2 separate regions of the Homo sapiens genome follow, and region 2 is linked to region 1. Evidence: fine-mapped expression QTL. A gene starts in region 1. The other region holds a variant in brackets. All regions are shown on one strand. Distances are from middle to middle.

Region 1 (15,774 bases):
TTGAATTTATCAGACTCAGACTATAAAATAAGACTACAAAACAATTATGAAGAGTATGTTTAAAGACAAAAGACCAACTTGATGCTGTCTACAGAGAACAGAAAACCACAAAGAGTAACGCAGCAGGTTTGACTTTGAAAAAAGAATCATATAGAATTTTATTGTGATTTTAAATATATTTTTATTTTATAAATAAAAATAAATTTTATAGCTAATTTTTAAAATACAAATTTAAAATCCAGGGCCAGGTGCCGTGGCTCATGCCTGTAATCCCAGCACTTTGGGAGGCCAAGGCAGGCAGATCACGAGGTCAGGAGATCGAGATCATCCTGGTCAACATGGTGAAACCCCGTCTCTACTAAAAATACACAAATTAGCTGGGTATGGTGGTGCACACCTGTAATCCCAGTTACTCGGGAGGCTGAGGCAGGAGAATCGCTTGAACCTAGGAGGTGGAGATTGCGGTGAGCCAAGATTGCACCACTGCACTCCAGCCTGGCGACAAAGCGAGACTCCGTCTCAAACAAATAAATAAATAAATAAATAATAAAATCCAACAGATTTTAAGTGTATACTACATTAGACATACTTCAAGATTTAGTAAACCTGAAGAACATCAGAAGAAATATTCCAGAGGCAAGAAAAGAAAAGAAAAAAATATATATAAGAAGGAAAAAGACACAGAAGGTACAGTGACAATGTCTAACATAGGTTTGGCCAGGGTTCTAGAAGGAGAAAAAAAGATAAGACAAAATAGAAGCAATTATCTGAAAAGTTAACTGCTGAGGATTTTTCAAACTGACATTACTTCAAAGCACTGATTTTTTTTTTTTTTTTTTTGAGATGGAGTCTCGCTCTGTTGCCCAGGCTGGAGTGCAGTGGCGCGATCTTGGCTCACTGCAAGCTCCGCCTCCCAGGTTCACGCCATTCTCCTGCCTCAACCTCCCGAGTAGCTGGGACTAGAGGCACCTGCCACCACGCTCAGCTAATTTTTTGTATTTTTAGTAGAGACGGGGTTTCATCGTGTTAGCCAGGATGGTCTCGATCTCATGACCTCATGATCTGCCTGCCTTGGCCTCCCAAATTGCTGGGATTACAGGCGTGAGCCACCACGCCCGGCCCAAAGCACTGATTTTAACAAGTCTTACAAACTGAAAGAATAATAAATGAAAAGAAATTCATACCTAAGTGTACTAAAGTGAAACTTCTTAAGACTGAAGACTAAAAACAAATATTAAAATAACCTAGGCCAGGCGTGGTGGCTCACGCCTGTAATCCTAGCACTTTGGGAGGCTGAGGCAGGCAGATCACCTGAGGTTAGGAGTTCAAGACCAGCCGGGCCAACACAGCAAAACCTTGTCTCTACTAAAAATACAAAAATTAGCTGGTCATGGGTGCCTGTAATCCCAGCTACTCAGGAGGCTGAGGCATGACAATCACTTGAACCCAGGAGGCGCAGGTTGCAGTGAGCTGAGATGCCCCTGCACTCCAGCCTGGGCGACAAGAGCAAAACTCCATTTCAAAAAAAAGAAAACAAAAAACAAAAAAAAAAGAATCCAGAGAAAAGAAAATTACTTTCAAAAGAGTCCTAATATACTAACAGCTGACTTTCCACTAGTAAAAATGGGAAAGAAGAGACAGTGGAATATTATTTTCAATGTGCTGAAACAAAACAGTTACCATAAAATAATGACATTTGAGATATACTAGAGGAGACATATTTTGCCACTATCAAATCTACAATGAAGGAAATTTTAAAGCATGTATTTCAGGTAGGAGGAGAATGATCTCACATGAAAAGTCTTAGATACAAGGAATTAAGAGCAAAGAAAATGGAAAATGTTTAAGTAAATCCAGTGTTTAAGTGTATAAAACAATAATAATAGTCTTGTGGACTTTCAAAAATACAAAATTAAAATACACAACAATAGCATACAAATCAGGAAAGAATATATGGAGTTCAAGTGTTCTGACTTCCTTATATTATTAAATTTTGACAAATTAAAAATGTGTAATATAATTTTAAAAGTAATCAATAAAATAATACAAAGAATATAATTTTAAACTGGTAAAGAGGAGGATTTGATACATAAAAATCAGATATCCATCTAAAAGAGGACAAAAAGGAGAGAAGAAGAAATGTAATAGATCAGACAAATGAAAGCACTTTGGAAGATGGCATATTTAATTCTAAATATAGTAGCAAGAAATGTAAAAGGACTAAATGGTTCAGTTAAAAGCTAAAGATTGACTGTTAAAAAAAATCCAACAGCTAATAGGAGACACATTTGAAACATAATAATAAAGAAAGGTTGAAATTAAAAGGAAAATACATACCTTGTAAACACCAACGAAAAGAAAGCTGATATGTCTAGAGGAAAACATCAGACAAAACACTTTAAGGCAGAAAGCATTAGTACAGATAAAGAGGGATACTTTATACTTATGAGAGGTTTCAATTAACCAAACGGATATTGTTTTTCATTCATATGAATCTTAAGACTATGAGAAAGTCTCAAGATTTTATATAGCAAAAGTTGAGAGACTATAAAGAGAAATAACATAAATTACCATATATATGTGGAGGGGTGGGCATAATATAAAACTTGGTATGTACAACTGCAAAATATACATTCTTTTCAAGCATGTGAATGGAATCTTAAATATAAATATATAGATATAGATAAAAGTTGACATGGCTTTTTCCCCGTCCAGCCAGGTAGCAATTTTCATTATTCCCAAGTGTTTATTTGGAACACATATAACACATTATTTGTGTACATAAAAGCAGGTTAGATAGGCTCTACCCTTATTACAAGCAATGCAAACACACCAATGTTGAGCACTTGGTAAGAGCCAGCTCTGTAGAGGATACTAGTTTATCTCCTTTAATTTAACTCTCATCCTATTATGTCGGTATTATTATGCCTAATGTGGGGAAAAGAACTAAGACACAGAGAGATTGAGCAAAAATTTTAAGATCAGCCCCCACTTTTTTTTTTTTTTTTTTTGAGATGAAGTCTCACTCTGTTGCCTAGGCTGGAGTGCAGTGGAGTGATCTCGACTCACTGCAACCTCCGCCTCCTGAGTTCAAGTGATTCTCCTGCCTCAGCCTCCTGGGTAGCTGGGATTACAGGCAAGTGCCACCAGGCCTGGGTAATTTTTGTATTTTTTGTAGAGATGGGGTTTCACCATGTTGGCCAGGCTGGTCTCGAACTCCTGACCTCAGGTGATCTGCCCACCTCGGCCTCCCAAAGCACTGGGATTACAGGCATAAGCCACCGCGCCCAGCCGAAGATCACCTCTTTAGTAAATGACAGTGCTAGGATTCGAATCTACTCTTTATTAGCAATGAGCCAGCTCCAGAAAATACTTATTCGTTTAAGGCTGGAAGTAGGGAGGTAAGCATTCCTATCGGAGGATCTCTAATAATATTAGGAAGCTATCTTTGTACAACATTGACAAACGTTTAAGTGTCTGCAATATAGTAGAATTACATATTGAGCCAAAGAAGTGGCTAAAATAGTTTGATGAGAGAGCTGTCTTAGAAGACACAGTTAGTGCTAGTGATTTGGAATGTGAGAATGGCTGAGAGTAAAGAACTATCATGTACCCAGCATAAAGAAATTAAAAAGCCTCTTCTATTTGACATCTTATGCTATTGAAAATCCTTTCCTTCTAGTTCAAGTTCACTATTTTCCCATTGCTTATACGTCCTGAAGTGAATTTCAATCTCAACAGTCTTTCATGACCAAATGAAAGTCGTTATAAATTCCCTCTGCTTTCAAGTTTTTAGAATGTGTATTATCTATTTTACTGCTCAATACAGGGAGGAAAACATAGATAAGTATAATTATAGAGTGTATCAGTCAATTATTTAAATCTATTCAATATTTGAATAATTAGGCCCACTTCATCTTCTATCAACTGTTTTAATATTTGTTCAGCTGAGCTTCACGCCTCAAGTCTCATCCCACTTTCTTACCTTCTCCACATCTTTCCCTCAGCCTCACAGCTGCATTGCTCCAACATAGCCATACAGTTTTCTTTTCAAAGCAAATATTTGATTATATCATTTAAATGCTTTAAAAAAAAGCAGTAGCTTTCACTTAAAAATATCCGCACTCAATTTAGTGTGGTTATAATGGGCTTTGCAATCTTGCCCCAGTTTATCTTTCCAGTCTCAGCTTCTCCACTCCTTACACCCTCTTAGGACAAAAATAACAGACTGATGGCCCATTTATGGAAAATACTGTACTGTGTTGTCATGCCTATGTGACAAGAAACTGAAGCCAGAGAGGTTAAACAGCCTGTTTAAGTCACGCAATAAGAAAATGGCAGAGCCGAGATTCAAACTCAGATCTGACTGACTCCAACTCATGGGCATAACCCAGTACACTACATTGCCTTCTTTTGTCTTTTACATCTTTTGTGAATTTTGTTTTAACCACATGAAACAAAATTAATTTTGAGCACATTAAATGGTGTGCATAATCACTACTGTCTTGCATCATAATTGGGTATAAAATATCAGCCAGTCACACAAGAAATTATTGTTATTTCTGAAGAATTTAGGGTTGCCATTAGTGTCAATAGTCTTCCTTCGCCTCAGACACTTAATAACACCCTCTTTTCATTTAAGACTCACTATGTGCCATGCATTGTGATAAGTATTTTATAAACACAATAACATGTAATGCCCAAAGTACCCTGTGAGATAATTATTTCTATTTCCATTTGTGATGAGGAAACTGAGGGTTAAAAAGGCTAAATTGCTTAAGATTAAACAGCTAGTAGTGGAGCTGGAACTCTACTAAACTCAAACTGTCTAACTTTAAAGCCTGTGCCCTCAACTAACTACCCTATACAACCTCCCTTTAAATGTCCTAGATTGAACTTCTCAATAAACTGGATCCTATCCTGTACATCTTATTTTTGCCTAAAATTCCCTGTTTCCTAAACATGTAGTTTTCTCTTGCCAGTCTTATCTTTCCTACTAAGTAGCTGACCGCTTCTTTCTGCTCCCATTCTTCTAGTATCCTGGGTACTAAACAGCTTAAAATAAGAGGCTCCTGTCATGAATTGGGGTTTATTTTCCCTATAGGTAATGGCTTCAGAGGAAGAAAATGGTGGTGATCTAAGCCATGGGTCAAGTGGCTGAGGTGGGAGGAAAAGACTTCCAAGGGCATATGATACAAGAAAGACTTTCCTATTCCTTTCATTTGTCTGGACTAAGATTCCCAAATGCCTAGGATCTAGAACTCCTTATGACTTTGTATACTTTCTTTTGTACTCAGTCAGGGTGGGCTTCAGGCCTGTGGGTTGCAGTAACAAGAAACTGTGATGCTTTTTTTTTGAACCTGGTAGCTTATGATTTTAGACATCAATTCATTTATATATGTCAGGCATTGATCTAGATACCAGATGAAAACGAAGCTGAGAACAAAACAAAGAACCTACCGTCCTGGATTTTATAGAGACAACAGACAATTAACAAATACATAATACAGTGGCAAATAGTGATAAATGCTATGAAGAAAAAGTAAAGGGACAGAAAATGATGAAGATATCCTTCAGGCAGTAGAGAAAAAGAAGAAAATGATGAAGGGTGATGGTGGGTTAGGGCTGTTATTTTAGTTTGGGTGGTCAGGGAAGATCTTTCTCAGGTGGTATTATTTGAGTAAAGATCCACAAATGAAGTTAAGAAACAAGATGTGAACATATCTGAAGAAAAAACATTCTGGCAGAATAAACAGCCTTGAGGTGGAAGTGTGCTTGTCATGTTTGAGGAAAATAAGGTGTCCACTTAGATGGAGCAGACTGAATGAGGAAAAGAGGAGTGGGAGATGTGGTTTAAGAATATCCAGGGACCAAGCAGAGCTTTGGATTTTATTCTAAATGTGTTGGGAAGCCACTTGAAGATTTTGAACAAAAGAGTGAAAGAATCAGATTTATATTCTAATAGGATACAACTTGCTGCTGAATAAAGTATACACTATAAGGAGGCAAGGATGGAAGCAAGAGACCAAATAGAGTAACAGTGGTAGAGAATTTGAGAAGATTCAGATTCAGGAAATGCTTTGAAAATAGAGCTGATAAGAACTGCTAATGGATTGAATATGGGGTGTTTAGCTTTAACCCAAAGTCTTTGGGTTTTGGCTGAGGCAACTAATTGAATGAAGGTGCCATTTACTGGGATGAGGAAAACTGAGATGGGGATTAAGTTTAGGAGAGGAAATCAAGAGTTTGGTTTTAGATTTGTGAGAGACTGTTTGACTTTCAAGTTCCTAGGGACAATGGGCCTGTAGTAGCTGCAGCTGGTGTTAACCTTTTACAGGGACATGTCTAAGTGGAGGTGAGGGGGCAGAGAAACAGAAGAAATAAAGTTCCTTCTGAGTAATCTCCCAGATATTCAAGTGATAAAAAGCAGGTTAGTCATCTGAGCCTGTCTTATACACACTGATTTCAGGGCAAGAAGAAGTCTCCTCTCTCTTCAAAAAATGTTCCGATTTCTATTGTCTCAAAATTTCTGAATTTAAATTAAATGTATCCCGCAATTAGAGAAAGCAGAAAATGTAAATAGCTTGAGAGATAATCCAGTGCGTATGAGTTTTTACCAAAGTATAACTGAGAGCAGATGAAGGTCCTGAATGTTTAATCTTTTTGTGAAGAGAAAGGAGGTAGATATTAAATAAAACAAAGATTTTATAATCTTGCTTTGGCAATGCCCTATTTATCGTAATTTTTAAGTGAGAAACTACAGAAAGAGTGTTTGTATCTTGAAGGATCATCTAAGTTTATACCCAAGGGGGGATTACGCATTTAAATTCTTTCTCTTCCCCACATTTTAATCCTTTCTATCTTTTAACCCTTAGTCTTTTCCCAAAAGTGTTCTTCAACTAGAAGGCCTGTGGCATGATTGAGGCTTGTCAACTCTCTTCTAGGGCCAGATTTCAAACAGATGGCCCTGGAGAATGCTACTTATCTGTACAGTTCTCCATTTGATGTTGCAGTGTGCTAGTATCCTAGGGGAAGGGTACCACATTTAACTCCAGAAAGGATTTAAGGCAGTTTTGCAATTTTTTTTTTTCTGATTATCAGAGTAATATACGATTATTGCAAAATATTTTAACAAAAAAGTTAAAAAAAGACTATTTGAATTCCTACTTACTAGAGGCAATCCCAACAACATTTTGGCATATTTCCTTCCACTGTCTTATATGCATTTCGTTTTTTTCATAACTGAGCTCTTTATTGTACAAGCAACTTTTGCTGCCTGCTGTTTTTGCTTAGTTATGGTATATATGTTTGTCTCTATCATTACATTTTTAAAGCTACGTAATCATCTATAACACGGCTATACTATAGTTTACTCAAGATGGTTTCTGATTATTTATAATTACAAATAACACTGTGATAAACAGCTTTGTGCATAAATCTTCGCTCTTCTTTTGGATGACTTACTAAAGGAGGAATTGGTAGATTAAATGTATACATACTTTTTAAAGCTTCTGATGTAAATTGTTACAATGATTTCCAGAAAGGATGTTATTAAATTACACTTGGGAAGGGAAGGAGAGAGCTATTGGAACTATCGGATCTGGTAGAAAATATCTGACAGCAATTCTTACAAAGTACTATGCCCCTGGGGAAGAGTCCTTTCTCTCTCTGGAAAAGGGGTTATCTTAAAGTATTAAAATTATTACATCAGATTTTCCACACCACACAATATGTATGGATCATGAGGAGGAAAGGAGAATTGAGAATTTGAGTTAGAAGTCACATATAAGCTGACATGTCAGAAATGACCAATTTGGGAAACTAAGTTTACCAACACTGCTAAAGGACTCAAATATTTTAAACAGTGGTTCAGATATTGTGATTATGCAGTATCAGGTTTATTTAATTTTGTATCATTTCATGCTATTTAATGAGACAATATAATGAGTGTTTTTCAAACTGTGGGTCCTAATCCATTTGTAAATTATGAAATCAATGTATTTTCTATGACTGCTATTTTTAAGAAACAAAATACAATACAATGAAAAATATGAGAATGCACTGCAAACATTTCAATGTATGATTTCATAATTTACAAATAGATTAGGACCCACAGTATTATTTTGTGAGACTTTTGTTTCAGTTACATGTGTGTATATACTATAGAACACATTTATTATTGTGGGATGTGATTAAGGAAAAAAATAGTTTGAAGCCATTGGTGTAGTGGAAAGAGTCTGGGCTTTGGAATTAGCCAGAACAAGTTTGAATCTGAGCTCTGCTTGGCTTTTACCCATTATCTAACTAAATGGCTCAATCACCACATTGAAAAAAGAGAGAAATAATATCTCCTTTTTGGTTTGTGTGTGTACATGTTGTGTGCGTGTGTATGAAGATTAGAGATTACTTAAGCAGAATGCCTATAACATAGTCAATGATTAATATATAATTACTTCCAAATCTTTCTCAAAATAATGTTCTCCCTGTAAAAATACTTCACTGAAGAAAGACAATGTGTTTTATTGATGACTACATCTGTTATGCTATCGTGTACTTTTAAAACACCTCTGTCAGTCTTTTTCTCCAATTTGGTTTAGTAAGGAGACTTGTGCACATAGTCTTTCCCCTTCCTGTTCTCACACTTTATTTACCTATATTATGGATCTTGGCACTTTATATCTGTCATAGATGGTCTAATTGTTGCCTAGTTCAATTACTACTAAACACTTTCAAACCTCTTCTAGTTCTCAAAATAGTGGTGGGAGCATTGCAGGGTGCCAGATGAAAATCTGTTGAGTTTGCTCTACAGCACACCTTTTGCAAAGTATCACTTGTGGTGTACGGGGAAGCAGCTGTAATGCTGATTCCGCCGGCATTTCTCACTCAATCTACTCCATGCTAAACAGGCCGGTTAGGAATTAAGTCATACTCTGGGTAGTACAAGTGGAAAGTGTGAACAGAGAAACCACTTTATGCGAGGACAGTGGAAAATGAGATCCTCCTTTCCTCTCCCTACTCCTGCTCCTATCGAGAAGCACTTAAGAGCGCAGACGCCCAGGACCCAGCCGCGCTCGGGCGTCCCGACTCGGAGGCTGGCGGCGGGCAGGCACGCTCTCCCGCGCTGAGAGCCCTTCTGCGGAGATGAACTCTCGAGTGTCGCCGCCGCGCGCGGGCCCGATCGATACCGGCGGGCGGACGTGCTCCCGCCGCCGACAGCAGCCACAGGGCGGTGCAGTCAGCTGTCCGGCCGCTCGGTCGCACTTCTCATCAGCTCAATACCCGCAGAGGACGTGCACCGGTTCCCTCCCGGACACCCACCCCGTGGTCTCCGCCGCACCTTCTGCCCACCGCCCCTTCCGCTCGGCCGTCCGGCGCAGAGCGGGAGCTTTTCAGCCAGACGCCCTCGCGTTGGGGGCAGCCGGGTCCCGGCCCGAGCGGAGGGCGTCGTGAGGTGGCCTTTTCGCCCGGCTCCCCAGTGGGACGCTCCGCGGAGGCAGCCAAGGCGGGGAGTGTCGAGCTCCCTCACACTCTGGACCTTACCTTCTGGCGTCTTCGCCCGGGAGGCTGCAGGGGGAGGCGGACCCAGCCGGCCACAGGGGCAGGTTCGCGGCGCTGTGAGGCGGGGCTGGGCGTGCGCCGCCGCCGCCGCCAGATTCGTCTACTCCAGTGAATCGGCACGGGAGAAAGCCCCGCCCCCGGCGCCCGCTCCCACTCCTGATTGGCCGGGCCAGCCCGGGGAGGCCCGGCGGGACCCCGGCCCGCGTCTCAGCTATAAAGATAGCCCCGGCATGACAGCCGCGGCGAAGCTCTTCTAGTTCATCTGCTGGCCGGCTCTCAGTCCCCGTGGCGCCCCCTTTCCTCTTGTCCCAGAGCGCTCTCGACTCCACCATGCCAAGGGGATTCCTGGTGAAGCGAACTAAACGGACAGGCGGCTTGTACCGAGTTCGCCTTGCGGAGCGTGTCTTCCCTCTGCTGGGGCCCCAGGGGGCGCCGCCCTTCTTGGAGGAGGCTCCCAGCGCCTCCTTGCCCGGCGCGGAGCGGGCGACACCCCCCACCCGAGAGGAACCAGGAAAGGGGTTGACGGCGGAGGCGGCCCGGGAACAGTCGGGGTCGCCATGTCGGGCGGCTGGGGTGAGCCCGGGGACGGGCGGGCGGGAAGGCGCGGAGTGGCGGGCGGGTGGCAGGGAAGGTCCCGGGCCCAGCCCCAGCCCCAGCCCCAGTCCAGCGAAGCCGGCAGGCGCAGAGCTGCGTCGGGCGTTCCTGGAGCGCTGCCTCAGCTCGCCCGTCTCCGCCGAGTCTTTCCCCGGGGGCGCCGCCGCCGTGGCCGCTTTCTCCTGCTCCGTGGCGCCAGCAGCCGCACCGACCCCGGGGGAGCAGTTTCTGCTGCCGCTTCGGGCGCCGTTCCCAGAGCCCGCGCTTCAGCCGGACCCTGCGCCCCTCTCGGCCGCCCTTCAGAGTCTGAAGCGGGCGGCCGGCGGCGAGCGCCGCGGCAAGGCACCCACGGACTGCGCGTCTGGACCCGCGGCCGCGGGAATCAAGAAGCCAAAGGCCATGAGGAAGTTGAGCTTTGCCGATGAGGTGACCACATCCCCTGTCCTGGGCCTGAAGATCAAGGAGGAGGAGCCCGGAGCGCCGTCCCGGGGCTTGGGGGGCAGCCGCACGCCACTGGGGGAGTTCATCTGCCAGCTGTGCAAGGAGCAGTACGCAGACCCCTTCGCGCTGGCCCAGCACCGCTGCTCCCGCATCGTGCGCGTAGAGTACCGCTGCCCTGAGTGCGACAAGGTGTTCAGCTGTCCTGCGAACCTGGCCTCCCATCGCCGCTGGCATAAGCCGCGTCCTGCGGCTGCAAACGCCGCCACAGTCTCCTCCGCCGACGGGAAGCCGCCTTCTTCGTCGTCTTCGTCCTCCCGGGACTCCGGGGCCATTGCATCTTTTCTGGCGGAGGGAAAGGAGAACAGCCGAATAGAGCGGACTGCGGATCAGCACCCGCAGGCCAGGGACAGCTCCGGGGCGGATCAGCACCCGGACAGCGCCCCGAGGCAGGGCCTCCAGGTGCTGACGCATCCAGAGCCACCGCTGCCTCAGGGCCCCTACACGGAGGGGGTGTTGGGGCGCCGGGTACCTGTGCCGGGCAGTACCAGTGGTGGCAGGGGATCCGAGATTTTCGTGTGCCCATATTGCCACAAAAAGTTTCGTCGCCAAGCCTATCTGCGCAAGCACCTGAGCACTCACGAGGCGGGCTCGGCCCGTGCGCTAGCGCCGGGCTTTGGCTCCGAACGCGGTGCCCCACTTGCCTTCGCTTGCCCATTGTGCGGAGCGCACTTCCCTACAGCAGATATCAGGGAGAAGCACCGGCTGTGGCATGCTGTCCGCGAGGAGCTGCTCCTGCCCGCTCTGGCGGGGGCTCCTCCCGAAACGTCGGGCCCTAGCGGGCCATCTGACGGGAGTGCCCAGCAAATTTTCTCGTGCAAGCACTGCCCGTCCACTTTTTTTAGCTCTCCAGGGCTGACCCGGCACATCAATAAGTGCCACCCCTCAGAAAGCCGGCAAGTGCTGCTGCTGCAGATGCCACTGCGGCCTGGCTGCTGAGGGACGAGAGACCAGGATGATTTCGAGGTTGGCCTTAGAGGAAACAGATCATGGGAATTTCTGTGGGGCTTTCTTCAACTTGCAAGTTTACTTTCATTCCTTCCTATGTTTTAATCCCCTAAAATTCTCCCTGTAGTCAATGTTCCACCAGAGGAGCGGACAGTGAAATGTAATATCCCTCTCTAGAGCAGGTATGTATATGGTATAAACCTTGAGATCAAAGACTGTCAGCTTTAAATCCTTCTCACTTTCCCCACTAAAATAGGATTTTTCCCCTTAAAACTCTGGAGACCCTAACGAATCCTATATGATTTGTAATTCCTATGGAAAGTCGCGGTGAATGCGTGCATGTCTCAATGTCCACAAAGGATTCTGGCTACCCTTTGGTAGCCAATGTTTTTTTTGTCTTGTCATCACAGGCGCCTATACAGCTTCTGTCTCAATAGGGTCAGATATTTTGCACTGTATATTCTGTGAATTAAAAGTTATGTGATTGGTGTCAAACTTAAGGAGATTCAAGACCTGGCAGAAAATGTAAGAGGATTTTTGCTGCTTTTGGGGTGCATGGGGATCTCCCCTGTAAACTTTCCTTTGCCCAATTATATGTACATGTCCATTCTTAAGTTGGTGTTTGGAGGTGGGGAGGATGCTACTTTACTGGAGTTGAGACACCCCCTAAAATTCTCACCCTCAGCTATTTTGTGGGCAGTATTCAGGAAGAGCTACTTCAAACCTTTCTTTAAATGGCTTTTTGGAAATACAGAAGTCGTTTCCTCAAGTTTGACTGTTTTAATGGGGTTTCACCCAAATTGTTTAATGCTTCTGCTGTAAATGTCATACTGTGTATTCATTATGAAAATATGTACAGCTTAAGGAAGATGTTAACACCTGTAATCCACTAAGGAACTGAATGGCAATTTGCTCAATATTCAGTATTTTCTTTTCAGCGGCAACTTGTTTTTGATTTTTTTAAAAAACCATTTCAGTGTACATTGTGTACTAATTCCCTACTAGCCAGTTTGGGACATTGGCTGAGCACTGCCTGACAGAAAGCCCGTATTTGTAAGATGCTTACCACCAAATAAATGTACATAGACTGTGCTTTTGTTGTGTTCTGTGTTTGTCTTAAGAATCCTGTTGAACACAGCCTATTTTCAAAGCCACATTTCTTATCTCCCCAATGTCGGTATCCTGTTTTAGAATGTTAGTGACCCATTTGGACAGAATACAAAGACGGAAATATTTTGCAAATGAATGTGATGGTGCAGGAATGCAATGAAAAATTTTCCTTTGAAGTATGGCTGCAAAGACTGAGCTGCAAAAAGCAAGGAATATGCACTAGTCTTTGAATCTAAAAAAGACATCCCCCCCAAGAAATGTCAACCGAAAACATATTTTAAATATATATATATATATATTTCAAGCTAGTGAACAGTGTTACCTGAAGATGAAAAGAAGTATTTTAATGGTGCTAATTAATTTCATTATTTCAGGTTTGTATTTTTACTCCATATTGTTATATATCATCAATCCATTAGATTTTTTATAGCACTTTAGAAACATGTATGCAGTTACTCTGATTTTCCTTTTTGTAATTCTTCACCTTGGCTGTAGGAAATTGTCTACATTGTTCAATCTTCTTCCCAAGGACTCTATCCATTTGTTTATCTTCTACATCAGCTTACATAGGACTTTTAGTTTTCATTTATAAGAAAATGAAATTGGGTGCACAGAATTTCTGAAAGATTGTCTTAGAAACTTGTTAGTACGAAGTTTTATTGCTGAAAGTATATTATAAAACAAAGTAAAATTTAAGAATCAAAAAAACATGAAGCTGTAATCCCAGCACTTTGGGAGGCCGAGGTGGGCGGATCACGAGGTCAGGAGATGGAGACCATCCTGGCTAACACGGTGAAACCCCGTTTCTACTAAAAAACAAAAAACAAAAAACAAAACAAAACAAAAAAATTAGCCGGGCGTGGTGGCACACGCCTATAGTTCCAGCTACTCAGGAGGCTGAGGTAGGAGAACTGCTTGAACCTGGGAGGCGGAGGTTGCAGTGAGCCGAGATCGCGCCAGCCTGGGTGACAGGGAGACTCCGTCTCAAAAAGCAAAACAAAACAAAACAAAAACATGAAGCTGAGATAAACTAACAATCTAACCAACTGCATTGGGTGAATTTCTGGCCAGCCTTTATGAAGACAGAAAATTTCCTGTGTTTTTAACGACTGTGGTAGGATCTGTGAGAAATAAGTTGGAATGTATCTTGAAAAGGGAATTCAAGTTTATTTTTGATGATTAGCTAAGATAATCTAGGTTCATGCTTTAAATCTCCTCACTACTCATATAGCCCTGCTTATTGAAAATATATGAAACATAGAAGACAAATCAACACTCATGGATAGGAAGTGATAAGAATATTTTTATTGTATTATTAAATACCATGTCATCTTTCCCCCCCACTGTTACAAATTATAGATACTACATGAATGATGATACATAATTTATATTTTACGGTTTGCCAGTATGATGTATTTACACATGCAGTTAGTACCAATGTCATGCTACATTTCCTCAGGAGATGCCCATTCAAAACAAAATGTGAGCAGCTTATCTACTGTAAGAAAATACTTCTAGAGGGTGGAATGTATACCAACCTGGACCTGCAAGTTCAGTATTAACAATATTAGATTTAACTTAGACTCCTGGGTTATGTTCCTTTTTCTTTTTTAAATAATACTCATAATTTGAACAACATATTTATATCAGAAAATTTTCCTTCTTTTCTTCCCCATCTTCTTTTTGGTGCTTAAAAAAGAACATAGAAACACCAGGATCTAGCAGCCAATAATAAAAGGCCACAATCTGAAAACAAATGGCATTTAACAGTGATACCACTTGAAATGCAAAACATTAGAAAAATACTTGGAAGCTAAACATAAAAGTTCAGCACAGTGATTTTTCTAGTTATTGGATATAACATGGCATCACCTGCACAGCCAAGAAATGAGACATTGCTTTGGGAAGAAGAGTTAATACTAAAATGATTTCAGTTGGAATTTGAGATGCTAAAGACCATTTATTTTGAGTGTTTTATTGTCATAACAAATAATCTGTACACATTCTGTGTATTAACAGGTACATCTTTTGCTGTAACTTTACAAATGCTTAAATGTAAAATTTTACATTTGTAAAAAATTATATATTTATTGAACCATAAAGTTGCAATGGGGCACAATAAATAATGAGACTAATTGTCCAATTGTATTTTGGCTCACAGTTAACCATGAAATTAAAGATAAAACTACTTAGACATAATTATCTAGGAAGGTAAAGGGTGTAGAATAAAACTCCCCCTGCCCTCAAAATATGGCAGCTTGGATTGTGGGAAAAAAAATGAAACAATAAATAACTTAAATCTTTAATATTAAGCTACAAATTATTTAAAATTATTTAAATCCAGTGTTTTCTCAAATAAATGTACAGGAAGAAACATGCATGTTATGGCAGACATGAAGGCCTGAAAGGGTTAACCCTATGTTCGTGCTAAGGTGGCTACTGCTGATCACTGCTGGGCTGCTTGTCTCCTTAGGATTTATTGGCTGAGCCAGAGGAACGACGCAGCTTCATGGACATGCGGCTTTTGCTAGTTCGAGGAGACATTGGAGAGGCCAGGTCAGCCCCATCTACCTGCGTTGCTGTGGGAGTTTCACTGGGTAGAATCTCTGGGTAGGAGCCTGTAGGAAACAGCAAGAGCATTACTACAGTTATCCAGCCTCTCATCCCCTGAGAAATAATCTTTCTGCTACTAATCTGCAGCAAGGATCCCATCCCTTAATAAGATCTTTCGAGGGAAAAAGCAAGCCCCAAACTTGCTTGTTACAATAGCCTACTAATGTATTTAAAACCCAGCAATCTGGTGGCTCATGTCATTATATTAGCAAGAAAGCGCCAATCATCATTCCCAGGGCTAGAACCCTGGAAAAAGCAGTGGGAAGCAAAATCTTTGAGCCAGAAAGAACAGGGATCCAAAGCACCATCAGCATGCAGGGAAGGGGTCAAGAAGCAGGTGAGAAGGACCAATTCCTATCTCTAGGATTCAGGGTACAACCAAGAAAAGAGCCTTCACTACTCAAACTTGAAAAACAGCACCAAACAGTTCCAAACAGTTTTGGAACCACGGGT
Region 2 (15,774 bases), 26 kb before region 1:
AATAAAACTAGAAATCAATAACAAGAGGAATTTTGGAAATGATACAAACACATGAAATTAAACAACATGCTCCTAAATGACCAGTGGGTCAATGAGAAATGAAGAAGAAAATTTAAAAATGTATTGAAACAAATGGTAATAGAAACACAACATGCCAAAACCTATGGAATACTGGCCAGGCACAGTGGCTCACACCTGTAATCCCACCACTTTGGGAGGCTAAGGTGGGCAGACCACTTTGGGAGGCTAAGGTGGGCAGATCACTTGAGGCCAGGAGTTCAAGACCAGCTTGGCCAACATGGTGAAACCCTGTCTCTATTAAAAATAGCTGGACATGGTGGCACATGCCTATAATCCTAGCTACTTGGGAAGCTGAGGCAGGAGAACTGCTTGAACCTGGAAGGAGGAGGTTGAAGTGAACTGAGATTGCACCACTGCACTCCAGCCCCAGCAACAGAGTGAGTGAGACTCCATCTCAAAAAACAAACAAACAACAACAAAAACAACAAAAAAACAAGACCCGTGGGACACAGCAAAGGCACTAAGAGGGAAATTTGTAGCTATAAGTGCCTAAATTTTAAAAAGTAGAAACACTTCAAATAAACAACCTAACAATGCATCTTAAATAACTAGAAAAGCAGAAGCAAACCATACCCAAAATTAGCAGAAGTAAAGACCAGAATGCCAATAAATGAAATTGAAATGGAGAAAATAATAGAAAAGTCAACAAAGTAAAAAGCTGATTTTTTGAAAAGATAAACAAAATTGACAAACCTTTAGCTAGACTAAGAAAAAAGGAGTAGACTCAAATTAATACCAGAGATGAAAAAGGAGACATTACAGCTGATGCTGCAGAAATTCAAAGGATCATTAGTGGCTACTATGAGCAATCAAACAGGAAAATGTAGAAGAAATGGATAAATTTCTAGACACATAAAACCTACCAAGATTGAACCATGAAGAAATCTAAATCCTTAACAGGCCAATGAGAAATAACGAGCTTGAAACCATAATACGAAGTCTCCCAGGCTGGGCATGGTGGCTCATGCCTGTACTCCTAGCACTTTGGGAGGCCAATGTGGGCGGATCACCTGAGGTCAGGAATTTGAGACCAGCCTGGCCAACATGACAAAAACCCATCTCTACTAAAAATACAAAAATTAGCTGGGCGTGGTGGTGGGCACCTATAATCCCAGCTACTCAGGAGGCTGAGGCAGGAGAATTGCTTGAACCCAGGAGGTGGATGTTACAGTGAGCCAAGATAGTGCCACTATACTTCATCCTGGACAACAGAGTGAGACTCTGTCTCAAAAAAAAAAAAAAAAAAAAGTCTCTCAGTTCCTCCCCTCTTCTTTTCTCCCCTTCCTCTCCTAAAAAAAAAAAAAAAAAGGAAAAAGAAAAAGTCTCCCTGCAAAGAAAACCCCAGGACCCGATGGCTTCACTGCTGAATTTTACCAAACATTTAGAGAAGAACTAATACCAATCCTACTCAAACTATTCTGAAAATAGAGGAGGAGGAAATACTTCCAAATTAATTCTACAAGGTAAGTATTACCTTGATACCCAAACCGGACAAGGGCACAGCAAAAAGGAAAACTACAGGCCAATATCCCTGATGAACACTGGTGCAAAAATCCTTAACAAAATACTAGCAAACTGAATTCAACAATACATTAAAAAGATCATTCATCATAACCATGGGGGATTTATTCCAGGGATGCAAGGATGGTTCAACATAACACAAATCAATCAGTGGGATCCATCATATCAACAGAGTGAAGGACAAAAACCATATGATCATTTCAGTTGATGCTGAAAAAGCATTTGATAAAATTCAGTATCCCTTCATGATAAAAACCCTCAAAAAGCTGGATATAAAAAGAATATACCTCAACATAATAAAAGTCGTATGTGAACAGACCCACAGTTGCCATCATATTGAATGGGGAGAAACTGAAATACTTTCCTCTAAGATCTAGAACACAAGGATGCCTACTTTCATCAACATAGTACTAGAAGTCCTAGTTACAGCAATCAGACAAGAAAAGAAATAAAGGGCCAGGCACAGCCATTACTGGCTCACACCTGTAATACCAGCACTTTGGGAGGCCAAGGTGGGTGGATCACTTGTACCCAGGAGTTTGAGACCAGCCTAGACAACATAGTGAGATCCCCATTTCTACAAAATATTAGCCAGGTGTGATGGCACATACCTGTAGTCCCACCTACTTGGGAGGCTGAGGTGGGAGGATGAATTGAACCTGGGAGGTCAAGGCTGCAGTAAATTATGAACATGCCAAAGCACTCCAGCCTGGGTGGCAGAGTGAGACCCTGCCTCAAATAAAATAAAATAAAATAAATAAAATAAAATAAAATAAAATAAAATAAAAAAATAAGTAAAGGGCATCCAAATTGGAAAGGAAGAAGTCAAATTATCCTTGTTTGCAGATAATATAATCTTACATCTGGAAAGACTTAAAGACACCACCAAAAAAGTATTAGAACTGATAAACAAATTCAGTAAAGCTGCAGGATACAAAATCAACATACAAAAATGAGTAATATTTTTATATGCCAACAGTGAAAAATCTGAAATAGAAATCAACAAAACAATCCCATGTACAATAGCTACAAATAAAATATCTAGAAATTAACCAAAGATGTGAAAGATCCTACAATGAAAACTAAAACATTGATGCAAGAAATTAAAGAGGATATAAAAGATGGAAAGATATTCCATGTTCCTGAATTGCAAGAATCAATATTGTTAAAATGTCCATACTACCCAAAGCAATCTACAGATTCAATGCAATCCCTGTCAAAATACTAGTGACGTTCTTCACAGAGATAGAAAAAACAATCCTAAAATTTATATGGAACCACAAAAGATCCAGAATAGCCAAAGCTATCCCAAGGAAGTAGAACAAAACTGGAGAAATCACATTACCTGACTTTAAACTATACTACAGAGCTATAGTAATATAGTAGTATAGTTTTTAAACCATTAGAGTATACGGCATGGTACTGGCATAAAAGCACAGATCACCGGAACAAATAGGAAACCCAGAAACAAATCCACACACCTACAGTAAACTCATTTTCGACAAAGGTGCCAAGAACATATATTGAAGAAAGGACAGTCTCCTCAATAAATGGTGCTGGGAAAACTGGATATCCACATGGAGAAAAATGAAACTAGACCTCTATTTCTTGTTATATACAAAAATCAAATCAAAATGGATTAAAGACTTAAATCTAAGACCTCAAACTATGAAACTACTGAAATAAAACATTGGGGAAACTCTCCAGGACGTTGGACTGGGCAAAGATTCTTGAGTAATACCCCAAGGACAGGCAACCAAAGCAAAAATGGACAAATGGGATCACATCAAGTTAAAAAGCTTCTTCTGCACAGCAAAGGAAACAATCAACAAAGTGAAGAGAAAACCTACAGAATGGGAGAAAATATTTGCAAACTCTCCCTCTGACAAGGGATAAATAACCAGAATATAAAGGAGCTCAAACAACTTTATAGGGCAAAAAAAAAAAAAAAAAAAAAAAGCCCTAATAATCCAATTTAAAAATAGCCAAAAGATCAGAATAGACATTTCTCAAAAGAAGACACACAAATGGCAAACAGGTATATGAAAAGGTGCACAACATCACTGATCATCAGAGAAATGCAAATCAAAACTACAGTGAGATATCATCTCACTCCAGTTAAAATGGCTTTTATCCAAAAGACAGGCAATAACAAATGCTGGTGAGAATGTGGAGAAAAGGGAACCCTCGTACACTGTTGTTGGGAATATAAGTTAGTATAACCACATGGAGAACAGTTTGGAGGTTCCTCAAAAAACTAAAAACAGAACTACCATATGATCCAGCAATCCCATTGCTAGATATATACCCCAAAGAAAGGAAATCAGTATACTGAAGAGACACCTACACTCCCATGTTTATTGCAACACTATTCACAATAGCCAACATTTGGAAGCAACTTAAGCGTCCTTTAGCAGATGAATGGATAAAGAAATATGGTTCATATACACAAGGGAGTACTATTCAGCCATAAAAAGAATGAGATCCTTTCATTTGCAACAACATGCATGGAACTGATAGACGTTATGCTAAGTGAAATAAACCAAGCACAGAAAGACAAACTTCGCATGTTCTCACTCATTTGTGGGAGGTAGTGAGTAGAATGATGGTTACCAGAGGCTGGGACGGGTAGAAAGGAGTGGGAAGCAAGTTGAGATGGTTAATGCGTACAAAAATATATTTTTGTACATATATTCATATGTACATACTCCAATACCAAATACCAAATACTCCCATAAGAGCTAGTATTTGATAATACAACAGGGTGACTACAGTCAACAATAATTTATTGTACATTTAAAAATAACTAAAATAGTATAATTGGATTGTTTGTAAAACAAAGAAAGCATAAATGTTCAGGGGATGGATACCCCATTTATCCTGATGTGTATGTCTGTATCAAAATATCTCATGAGCCCCCTAAATATTTATACCTACTATATACCCACAAAAATAAAAATAAAAAAATAGAGATGCTCATAACTCTTCTCAGACTTGGGGAATCAGAAACTGAGGGTGAGTAGCAAAAGGAAAAAACTAGCAACTAGATCTCTAGAGTTCAATTATCAAGGATAATATATATTTTTGACATTGAGTAAACCATTATGGATGGCATTATAGTAAAGTGTAAGCATAGATCCATCTTGAATAATGAAATTAAAATTTACTTATAGGAATTCTAATATTTTTATTTTTATGTATTTTTCCTCAATAAAGGCAGACCATGCTATTTAAAGAAATGATAGACTTTGACAACAGGAAGGTACACACCTGATTAGTTTTTCTAATTACGTGCTTATTACATATACATATATGTATCTCTAGTTCTATCCATTTATATACATAATTAGGAACATGTTTTTTCTAAAAATAGAATATTTAATGTAATGTTTAATTTTTCATTATTACACCTTAATAGGAAAAAATGGAATACTAAAATTTATCTTTAAATATATAGTTTCATGGTCAGTAGTATTAAGACAATACTGTTTATTTATTTAGGGCTCATAACCTTAGGATTTTTAACTTTCAGGAAATACCAGCCTAAAGTAAATTATTAATTCAAGGATGCTAGATAAAGACTCTTCATGAAAAAGAAACGCTATACCCTGCTGTGTTGCAGGCTCTCAAACTGTCCCTCAAAACGTTCCTAATACTGCTCACTGCACTAATTTTTTTTTCCTTTGTCGTCTCCCTTTCTATAGTCAGAAGCTATCTAGTCCCTCCCTCTTTAGTCTCCAGGGAAAAGGTGTTAGCTCATTTACTTGTCATTATTGAGCTTCTTTCTTTCCCACAAAAGCCAGTCTATTTATCATTCTTCTTTTTAGGCTTGGACAAAAAAGAGAAAACTTTATACTTTTTTTTAAGCAGAGGCACATTAATATTAAATCCCTTAAGCAGGAATTTCAAGGAGAATGTCTCAGAACAACATTTAAACCAACATCATAAATGCTTCCTCCTTTTAATAAAAGAAACTCTCTGAAATAATGCTGTCCTCAAGAGGGTCATCTGATAGTTTTGGTACTATCTTCTCATTTCTACTATCTTTCTACAATTGTTGTTGTGAAAAGTATTAGAGAAATAGATAGATGCTCTACACAAAATCTTCACAATATGGTCAACTTCCTTTCCCCCTCAAGCCCACCTTTCATGCATGCACACATCTATGCTTTGTTTTTAACTTCTTATATTCAATTTTTATTCTTGTTATTGAATGAAGCTCTGATTGGTTTACTATATGACAAATATTCTTTGCATTTTAAGAATCTCAGGTAGCTCTCTATCTTTTTTCACATTGGTTAGAGAGGCAGGGATCAAAGTACAAAACTGGGACAGTCACTGCTTATGTTTGTGCTTTATCTCATTAAGTGCTGATCACCAGGAAGGCAAACAGCCTGTCACGAAATTTGCCTTGCAAAGAATATAATAAAGAAATCTTATGAAAAGAGGCTGAACAGAAGGTATGTTTAATCTGTTGTAATGTTGGTTAGCCCCAGTTTCAGACCAAGAGTGATGATACTTGGAAAAAAAATTGGGAGTCTGCCTGCGGGCAACATTTACCCCGATGTAGAGATTGCTACAGAAACCTAACTGTGGGAAGTTTTCAACACATAAGTAAGGATTTATTAAAGGAATTAATATCTTTGAAGGCTCAGAAAGCAATCCTATTTTCCTACAAGATGGATGAAAGGCAGAGATTTCAAAACATTTGCTAGAAAACATCAATAGCCAATCCTGCTGATTTAATTTTTTCAATCCCTCAGGCATCAAAAGAAGTTGTGACTTGTCTACATTGCCTCGAAAGCAAAGCAATATTGTAAATTAAAAATGACTGGAGCTTAGCTGGCTGCATTTCATTTTTAATTAGTTGAATTTTCAAATATTTATCAACATTTCTTAAGCTCAGAAGCTAAAGAACTTCCCCTCACATTTTTTTTCTGAAGAAGGTTGGTGATATTCACTTACACGTCAAGGAAAAAGTCGTTAGATTTAGCTGGCTATCACAAATACTAGAAGAAATGGTATTTAGTCATCTCCATTTCTCTTCTTTTTTATTCTTGAGCAAGCAGAGACTTCCTATTCTTTTTAACCAGTTGGGAACTCACAAAACATAAACTCAGAGATTGATGGTAAAAATGAAAACAGATTCTGACAACATGTTACATCCCAATCACAAAAGTGTAACAAAGGCAAAAAATTTAATCCTCATTAGTGTAGTAGTGAGAAACAAAAAACCAAATTTTTTTTTTTTAAAGCAGCTGATTTTGCTTTAGGCATTTCGTCGAGGTGTGTGGTTAATTCATAAGCGGCAGGGGCAAGGTAGCCCCAGATTTTGGAATTGGTTTGCCTCTGAGAATAAAAATTAAAATGAAAAGAATAAAAATGTAATAGATGAGGCTAATCATCTATTCAAAAATATATATTTTATTGACTACTCTTTTATGTCAGGTACTATTTTAAGCACTTGGGATAAAGTGGTGAACCAGAAGTCAAGGTCCCTGACATCATGAAGCTTATATTCATTTATAGAAATATTTAGTCCTAACCAATACTCTGTGAATGGTAGAGTTCTAGGAGCATCTAAACTCTTTTCAAGGTAACAAGTATATTTTCAAGAAAATGTGTCTGTATTAGTATATCTAAATCTTTAACCTTGTCAATTATATTTAATCTTACCTGAAAAATGTGTTAAAAAAGGAGACTAGAAAAAGGAGAGGCCAAGAGCAGGAATTTCTCAGTGTGTCTTCAGCATGGCCCTGGGCAGAGGAAGCAACTTCCACTCCCCTTAGCAGCTTCCAATCCCCTTTGCAAGTCTATTCTCAACAGTGAAGATGGATACATCAGACAAGCTTGATGCCATTAGTAATGGTGATCCAACTAACTCTCACTGCCATGAATCCAAAGTGATCAAGCAATCTTTGGTTACAGTGTGGCTTCCCATATGGATTTTCCCACAGAGAGAGGATGTGTTCTTTACAGCCCCAAGGACCCCAGTCCTTTTAAAGCTATAGTTCTTAAATCAGTCAGCATTAAATTCTTAATTAATTAATTCTTAAATCGGTCAGCATTAAACTTAAATTCTTAATTAATTAATTCTTAAATCAGTCAGCATTAAACTTAAATCAGTCAGCACTCTAGTTTATATTTAAGTATCTCAGGGGCTTGATTATGAATCTGAACATTTTTGACTATTCTGACAAAACTGAATTTCTAGAATGATAAAGTTTTAGCTCAGACCCTCGAACAGTATTTCGCCAAGAAAAGTTAAAATTTATGGCATGAGAATCATCTAGGGAGCTTGTTAAACATACAGATTCCTGAGACTCATATTGTACTTATACTAAATCAGAATCTTTAAAGATGAGGCTCAAGATCTGCATTTTACCAAGGCTTCCAAATGATTCTAATGTACTTTAATAAAGCTGGAAAGTCACTGTCTGAGAAGCAAGGGATCGCATCTAATGAAGCTCTGTTTGGGCATTTGGCCAGTTTCCGACATATCATCTCCATCTTTATACATTGTAACAAAGTGTTTCAGCGAATTCCTGTCAAGGCTTGGTGTCTTTCACAATCCGGCCTCACTTTTCCAGTCTCATTTCTCACCTTTCCTCTCAATCACTTTATGCTTCAACACTCTGAATACACGATTTTCATGGCTCTAGGCCTCTACATTACTTGAGGGTTTTTCTTTTTGGGGGAGAAGAGGGGGTGGACGACAAATAGCATCCCAGTTCCTTGCCTGAGTTCTAAACCAACTGAAGGAGGCAGTTTGAGAACAAAATATCACTATTATTACCAACAATGCCTAGATTGGAGAATGTGGCTTATATATGGAAACTAAAAGCCTTCTTAATTCTGAAGCCCAGAATTAGACATACTTACCCATCCTGTCTCAGGAAGAACAGGATAACTACTGGCCTCATCTCTCATAAGCAA[C/A]CAATTATTTCTAAGCTTATGTAAGGCCAAGAGCAGACCAGGTCTATCAGACAGAGGAGGGAGGAAGGAAGTGGCTGAGGCTGAGTCAAGCATACCAAGTTCCTGCTCCCTAACTCATTAGTTAAAATAAGCAATTCCTCTACAACTGGGAAGAAATGATGAGTGAAGGGATGGAAAGAGTCCAGGACCATTGCTCTAATGGATGTCCCTTGACAAGAAAGGAAACAACTGGAGTGGAGAGTAATGCACCCCCATGACAGCATGCCCTACTGGTGCTTGAGGTACCCTATTACTCTCCAATCCTTTCTCTTAGTTTGACTACCTTATTCCTACTCATCTTTCAAGATATAGCACAAATGTTCACTCCTCTGTGAAGCTTGAGGAACTGAGGGGAGTACTCCCACCTTAATGCTGTCATAGGACTTTAAATGACTTTTATTATGGTACTTTTCATGTAATACACTTAGCTATTTTCTTTCTCTTATGAGTGCAGGGATTGTGACTTATATGTCTTTATATTTCCATAGTAGGTGTCCGATGAATTTTTGCTGAATGACTGTGAAAAAGAAGGTACATTCAAATATTTTTAAAGCTTAGTATTTTTAAGCCTGATTATAGCACCAAGACCAACAAGAAGACTAGTATTTTCCTTTATAGGATTTTCTTTTCTGAAAAAATTGACTAACAAATCTGGTCAAGGCTGATATTGCCTATTTAAGCCCCATCATAGAAACCCAATTGGCATCATCTTATTAACATGGCATATATGACTGATGATCTGATCCTAAAACAGGCCTTCTTTCAGTTACTGTAGCTTTACCTACTCAGGATAAACTAGTAGGTAATAATCACTTAAAAAAATTCTCCAATGAAGTAGAAACTACTAATAGAGAAGTTATTTCAGGTAAAACTTGAAATTTCAAAGTTCAATTATAAATTTATATTATGATTAATGATTTGCATGCATGTTTTATAATGGGAATGTTTCTCTTTCTTTTCTTTCTTTCTTTTTTTGAGACGGAGTCTTGCTCTGTTGCCCAGGCTGGAGTGTAGTAGCAGGATCTCAGTTCACTGCAACCTCCGCCTCCTGGGTTCAGGCGATTCTCATGCTTCAGCTTCCCGAGTGGCTGGGATTACAGGCGCCCACTACCATGCCTGGCTAATTTTTGTATTTTTAGTAGAGATAGGGTTTTGCCATGTTGGCCAGGCTGGTCTCGAACACCTGACCTCAGGTGATCGACCCGCCTTGGCCTCCCAAATACTTTCTCTCTTTCTCTCCAAGTATATATGTTGTCTCTAATTGTGTAAAGAAAGGATAAAAGGCATTTTACTTTTAAATTTCAACACTACAGGCCAGGCATGGTGGCACATTCCTGTAATCCCAGCACTTTGGGAGGCTGAGGTGGAAGGATCACTTCAGGTCAGGAGTTCCAGGCCAGCCTGGGTAACAGAGGGAGATCCCATCTCTATAAAACATAGAAAAAATTAGCCTGGCATGGTGGTGCACGCTTATAGTCCTAGCTACTTGGAAGGCTGATGCAGGAAGATCACTTGAGCCCAGGAGTTAGAGGCTATAGTGAGCTATGATCATGCCACTGTACCCTAGCATGGGTGACAGAGTGAGACCTTGTCTCAAAAAAAAAAAAAAATTCAATACTATATGTCTTTATAGCAGGGATGATTTATAATTATGAAATGGAGATATAATTATGAAATGAAACATAAGATTTTCAGCTTTAATTGATAGCACCAATTTGTAGATCCTTGTAAATAACACAAAAAGTTATTTGTGTGGTACTCTTAATTTTAAGATGAACATTTGACGTTAGAGAATATATAACTGTCCCTGTGTAAAACTGGCTTGTTTTCAAACTTACCTTTTGTTTCAATTATTAGTTGTGGTAAATCTCCCAAATGATTTGTAAATAGCATGTATTAAGTGGTAAAATGCACTGAGCTAGGATCTGCTCAAGGCTAAATCTCTCCCTGTTCATTTCGAATAACACAAAACAAAAAACAAAACAAAACATACCAAGTAGAAAGACCAGGAGCGGTGGCTCATGTCTGTGATCCCAGCACTTTGGGAAGCCTAGGTGGGCGGATCCGTTGAGCTCAAGAGTTGAAGACCAGCCCAGTCAACAAGGTGAAACCCCATCTCTACCAAAACCAAAACAAAAACAAAAAACTCCACAAATATTAGCCAGACGTGGTGATGCACGCCTGCAGTCCCAGCTACTGGGGGGCTGAGATGGGAGGATCACCTGAACCCTGAGAGGTTGAGGCTGCAGTGAACCGTGATTGCACCACCACACTCCAGCCTGGGTGACAGAGTGAGACTGTGTCTCAAAAGAAAAAAAAAAAAAGAGAGAGAGAGGAAGATACAACTACTTAAAGAACATCCCAGCAAGAGATATATTTGACCTGTTCTGTTAAAGAGATCCAACGGATTTGGGAGTGGATAGGACAATCAAATAATTTTCAAAATCAGCCTTTAATGTCATTTTAATACATTTATTTCTATTGGTATAATCCCAGACGTTCTTTAATTCTGTTTCAAACAGGTGTCTGTTAGTGTACTTTCTTCCGTTTAGGACCTACCATAAACTTAAAAATTGAGCTGTTTTGTCAATCAGCATCTGTTAAACTCAGGGTCTATATTTCAGTAAATGTGCTTCTGTTTAACTATCTTTTTACGGTCATAAGAGAAATAAACATATAAAATAAATGCATGTCAATGCATAGCTGTGCAGGAGTACAGATGTTTTATTAATGAAAATGAATCCAGCTTTTTGTAAGTCATGGCAGCAATATAACATTTCATTGTTTGCTTCTGTGCTAGACAGTCCCTGCTGTTTCCACATAGAAATTCCTGTAATGCTTAATGGACATCTGGAAGAATTCAGCCAATTAATCGAATTCATGTAGGAACTAGGCTAATGGCTGTCTGAAAGGCAGATTACATTAAATCAAACTTGCAATATGAATGAAAGCACTTAATCATACATGCAACATTCATTAGATGCGACACAGCAAGTGTTTTGATTACTTTAATGAAAGATCAGGTAAAGTGCATCAGCTGAACAGATTGAAAAGACAGCATGCTTACAAATGTTTGATTATGCTGAATATCAACAGAAACAGTGCCAGTAATTTATAGCAAAACATATTTGTAAGTGTCTAGAGCTGGTGAACTCAGTGAAATTCAAAGCCCATGCTCAAAACAATAATTAATAGCCATATATGATAAAACTTTAATCGGATGTCAGGAAAAGAGACAGATTGCCAGAAGTTTAGTAATTTATAGTCACTGGGTGCCTTCATATTTTGAATGGCTTGAAATATCTTTGAACCTCAATTTCATTTACTTTGAGGTACACAGTTCTTGAGTCATAAGGTGTTATTATACTAAAAACACTGTACTAAAAGAGGAATTAAATTTGTATGTTGGGCTTTAAAACCTCATGCCAGGAATTAAAATGCTATTCTTAATAGTTGTTTCTGCCTATTTCATGAATATTTCCACTTTTTCCTTTTTAATTATCTCATCGATTTTTCCCTAATATTCTACAGAAAGAAAGGCTAAAAAGTACATTTTCTAGATAATAGTATTATAAGTCTTGTAATATATTATAGCAAATGCTATTTGCAGCTTTTTGGATAAAATAAAAAAGATACAGCAGTGGTCCCCAACTTTTTTGGCACAAGGGACTGGTTACATAGAAGACAATTTTTCCATGGACAGGGGTGGGGGTGGGAATGGTTTTGAGATGAAACTGTTCCACCTCAGATCATCAGGCATTAGATTCTCATAAGGAGCACCAACCTAGATCTCTCACAGGTGCAGTTCACAACAGGGTTCGTGTGCCTACGTGAATTTAATGCTGCTGCTGATCTGAAAGGAGACAGAGCTCAGGTGGTAATGCTCGCTTTCCTGCCACTCAATTCCTGCTATGTGGCCTGGGTCCATGGCCCTGGGGTTGGGGACCCCTAAGATAAAGGATATATGTATCCTTTTATATTTCATATATTAAATAATTATTTTATAATTAATAAAATTATGAAATGTATATTTTACATAATTTTCCATATATATATATATAAAATTTCCTTTCGGTTCTCTTTTTTTTTTTTCCCCAGAGATGGGGTTGGTCTCATTATGTTCCTTAGGCTGGTCTTGAATTCCTAACCTCAAGTGATCCTCCTGCCTCAGCCTCCTGAGTAGCTGGGATTACAGGTGCCAGCCATCACACCCAGCTTTCTTTCTTTTTTTCTTTTTTTTGAGATGCAGTCTTACTCTGTTGTCCAGGGACCGGTAGTTGGTAAAGAAGGTGGTGGAGCAAGTGGAGAGCACAGTGGCACAGCCTCTGCTCACTGCAGCCTCCACCTCCCAGGTTCAAGTGATCCTTCTGCCTCAGCCTCCCCAGTAGCTGGGACTACAGGCGTGCACCATCACACCCGGGCTAATTTTTATATTTTTAGTAGAGACAGGGTTTCACCATGTTGGCCAGGCAGGTCTTGAACTCCTGACTTCAAGTGATCCACCTGCCTCAGCTTCCCGAAGTGTTGGGATTACAGGTGTGAGCCACCATGCCTGGACACCCAGCTTTCTGTAAGTACTTTTAATACTAGACAGGACTGACTTTAAAGGTGGTGGAAACCACTTTTTTTTGGGTTTAACAGAAGGACTTTTTTTTAACCTCTGAACTTTTTATTGGCTTCCTGTTCCCCAAAGGGTATCCTGCTTCTGCTGGCTCAGTGTCTCAGAACTTCTGTGTCATTGGTCTCAGACACTACTTTGCCATCCACTATCCTGCAGGTGGTGGTCTTGTGGATGGTTTGCATGGAGTTGCTGCTGTCCAGGGCATCATCAAGATTGAAGTCCTCCCTGTCTTCCAGCAGGCGGTGGTAGGTGGTGATCTCAGCCTCCAGCTTAGCTTTGATGTTCAGCAGGGCCTCATACTTCTGGGCCTGGTGCTGCCCCTCTGCCCGTGTGTGCCAGCAAGATCCCATTGAGCTGCTCCATCTACATGGGTAACGTGTCTCTACCTCTCTCAGGCTGTTCTGCAAGCTGAGCTTCAGATTTCTCATTGGGTCCAGGTCGATCTCCAAGGACTGGACTGTATGTCTCAGCTCCGTGAGTGTATTCTCAGCAGCTCCAATCTCGGCGAACTGCGTGGTGACCACTGTGGTGCTCTTTTCAAACTGCTGGGACCAGTAGTCTAGCTCCCCTCAGTTCTTTTGAGCCAGCTTGTCATATTGGGCCCAGGTGTCTGCCATGATCTTGCTGAGGTCCTGAGATTTAGGCGCATCTACCTCCCCAGTCAACCCAGAGCTGGCAATCTGGGCTTGTAGGCCTTTTACTTCCTCTTTGTGGTTCTTCATGAAGAGCAGCTTCTCCTTGAGAACCTCCATCTCTGTCTCCAGCTGCAGCTGAGTGACATTGGTGTCATCAGTGATCTTGTGGAGCCCATGGATGTCGCTCTCCACAGACTGGCGCATGACCATTCTGTCTCATAGTTGACTCTAAAGTCATCAGCAGCAAGATGGGCACTGTCAATCTGCAGAACGATGCAGGCATGGCTCACAGTATTTGCAAAGATCTGAGCCCTCAGATCCTTGATGTTCTTGAAGTAATGCCCCCAATCTCTGACCTGGGGTCCCTTCTTCTGCAGGTGCTCCTGCATTTTGCTCTCCAGCTTCCATTTCTTGGTCTCCAGACTCCTCACTCTGTCCAGGCAGTAGGCCAGGGAGTCGTTCAGGCCTTGCATGGTCTCCTTCTCATTCTGGATGCCCTCCACTCCTGCCAGACCCCTGGCCATCCCCACAGCCAGGCCCCCAGACCCCAAGTTGCCCCAGAAACTGGTGGAGTGGGACATGGAGATCTGGGAGCCCAAGCCCCCAGCACCTGCATAGATGTTGGCCATGCTGCTGACTGGCAGGGCGCCATAGCTTGGCGGCTTGATAGAGCCAAGGGACTGGTAGTTAGTAGAGAACATGGTGGACCAAGTGGTGAAGCTCATGCTATCCAGGGAGGAAAGCGAGAGGGCAGGACTCAGGTTTTGCTGAGGTCCAGAAGGACTGGTTTTTATCTCTCTAGAGTGATATAAGTGTGATTCTGAAAACAGGGAAATGGACATAGGATCTTTCAAGTCCTTTTTAGATATTTTCTTCAACTCAAGCCAATGAATATGCATTAAGCACTCAACTGTTTTAGGTGCTATGGGTTATATCAAGATGTGAGATAGATCGTTGTGGCTATAAGGAGTTTATAATACTCTATTCACCAAAACAACACAAAGAAAAATTAAAGCAACAGCAAAAACAAACAAGAGAACAACACACCGTAGAATATATTCAAGAAGTAGAATGTGAAGTGCAGATTTATAAATTTTGTAGAAAATTAAAGAAGAGCTAAAATAATGAGGAAGTTTGCATTTGAGCTGCTTAATTTACTTGATAAGAGATATAATTTCAAAGAATTAAAATTTCATTATTCTAGAATTGTCTTAGTCTGTTTGGCTGCTATAACAAAATGCCATGCACCGGGTAGCTTTCAAAAAACAGAATTCTTTTTTGTCACACTTCTGGAAGCTGGGAAATCCAAGATCGACTCCAGTAGACTCAGTATCCACTGAGGCCCCACTTTCTGGTTCACAGATGGAGATGGTGTCTTTTAGCTGTATCCTCACAAGATGGAAGGGATAAATGAGTTCCCTTAGGCCTATTTTATAAGGGTACTAATCCCATTAAAAGGCTCCACCCTCATGACCTAATCACGTCCTAAAAGGCCTTACCTCCTAATACCATCACCTGAGGGGTAAACATTCAGATAGAAAAATCTATGAATACTGTTTTGTTTTCTTACAGAGATTTAAAACATTGAGTGTTTCTCCAAGCACTTTTCAAACATCAAATTGTACAACATATTTTTAGGTTAAATGAGTTGACTGTTTTTACAACAGGCTAGAAATTCTTTCTCTTAATTTCCTCTCATTATACACACATTCACAGAAAGGGAAAGAAGAACTCACTGGCTCAGAATATGACCATTGTTTATAGTTTACCTACCAAATAATTCTTTTTCTACCTATGACCTCTTGAACCCTAGTAACATACTAAGAATATAACTAAAAGGAAAGCCTCATGCAATGCTACTTAAGCCTTCCTAAAACATTTAGCTCAGTTACTTCAAAATGTCCACATTGTTAGTTACTTAAACTATATAATCACACATCA

The links. PIP is the estimated chance that this variant, and not a neighbour inherited with it, causes the effect.
Region 2: its variant is fine-mapped to the expression of INSM2 in lung (TOPMed, PIP above 0.99).

What each region holds. Positions count from the first base shown.
Region 1 is chr14:35,524,365-35,540,138 of GRCh38, forward strand. INSM2 (INSM transcriptional repressor 2) reads left to right here and starts at 9,800. Exons shown (of 1, transcript NM_032594.4): 1 at 9,800-12,690. The coding sequence starts at 9,889. The coding sequence ends at 11,589. It overlaps RALGAPA1 (Ral GTPase activating protein catalytic subunit alpha 1), which reads right to left. Exons shown (of 42, transcript NM_001346249.2): 42 at 13,992-15,326. RefSeq lists enhancers at 8,594-9,418, 9,419-10,242, 10,243-11,066, 10,747-10,896, 11,067-11,889 and silencers at 9,237-9,316, 9,417-9,786.
Region 2 is chr14:35,498,532-35,514,305 of GRCh38, forward strand. It overlaps the pseudogene KRT18P6. Among named protein-coding and RNA genes, the nearest start is that of INSM2, 28 kb to the right of the region's middle. The variant C/A (reference allele first, on the strand shown) is at 8,539.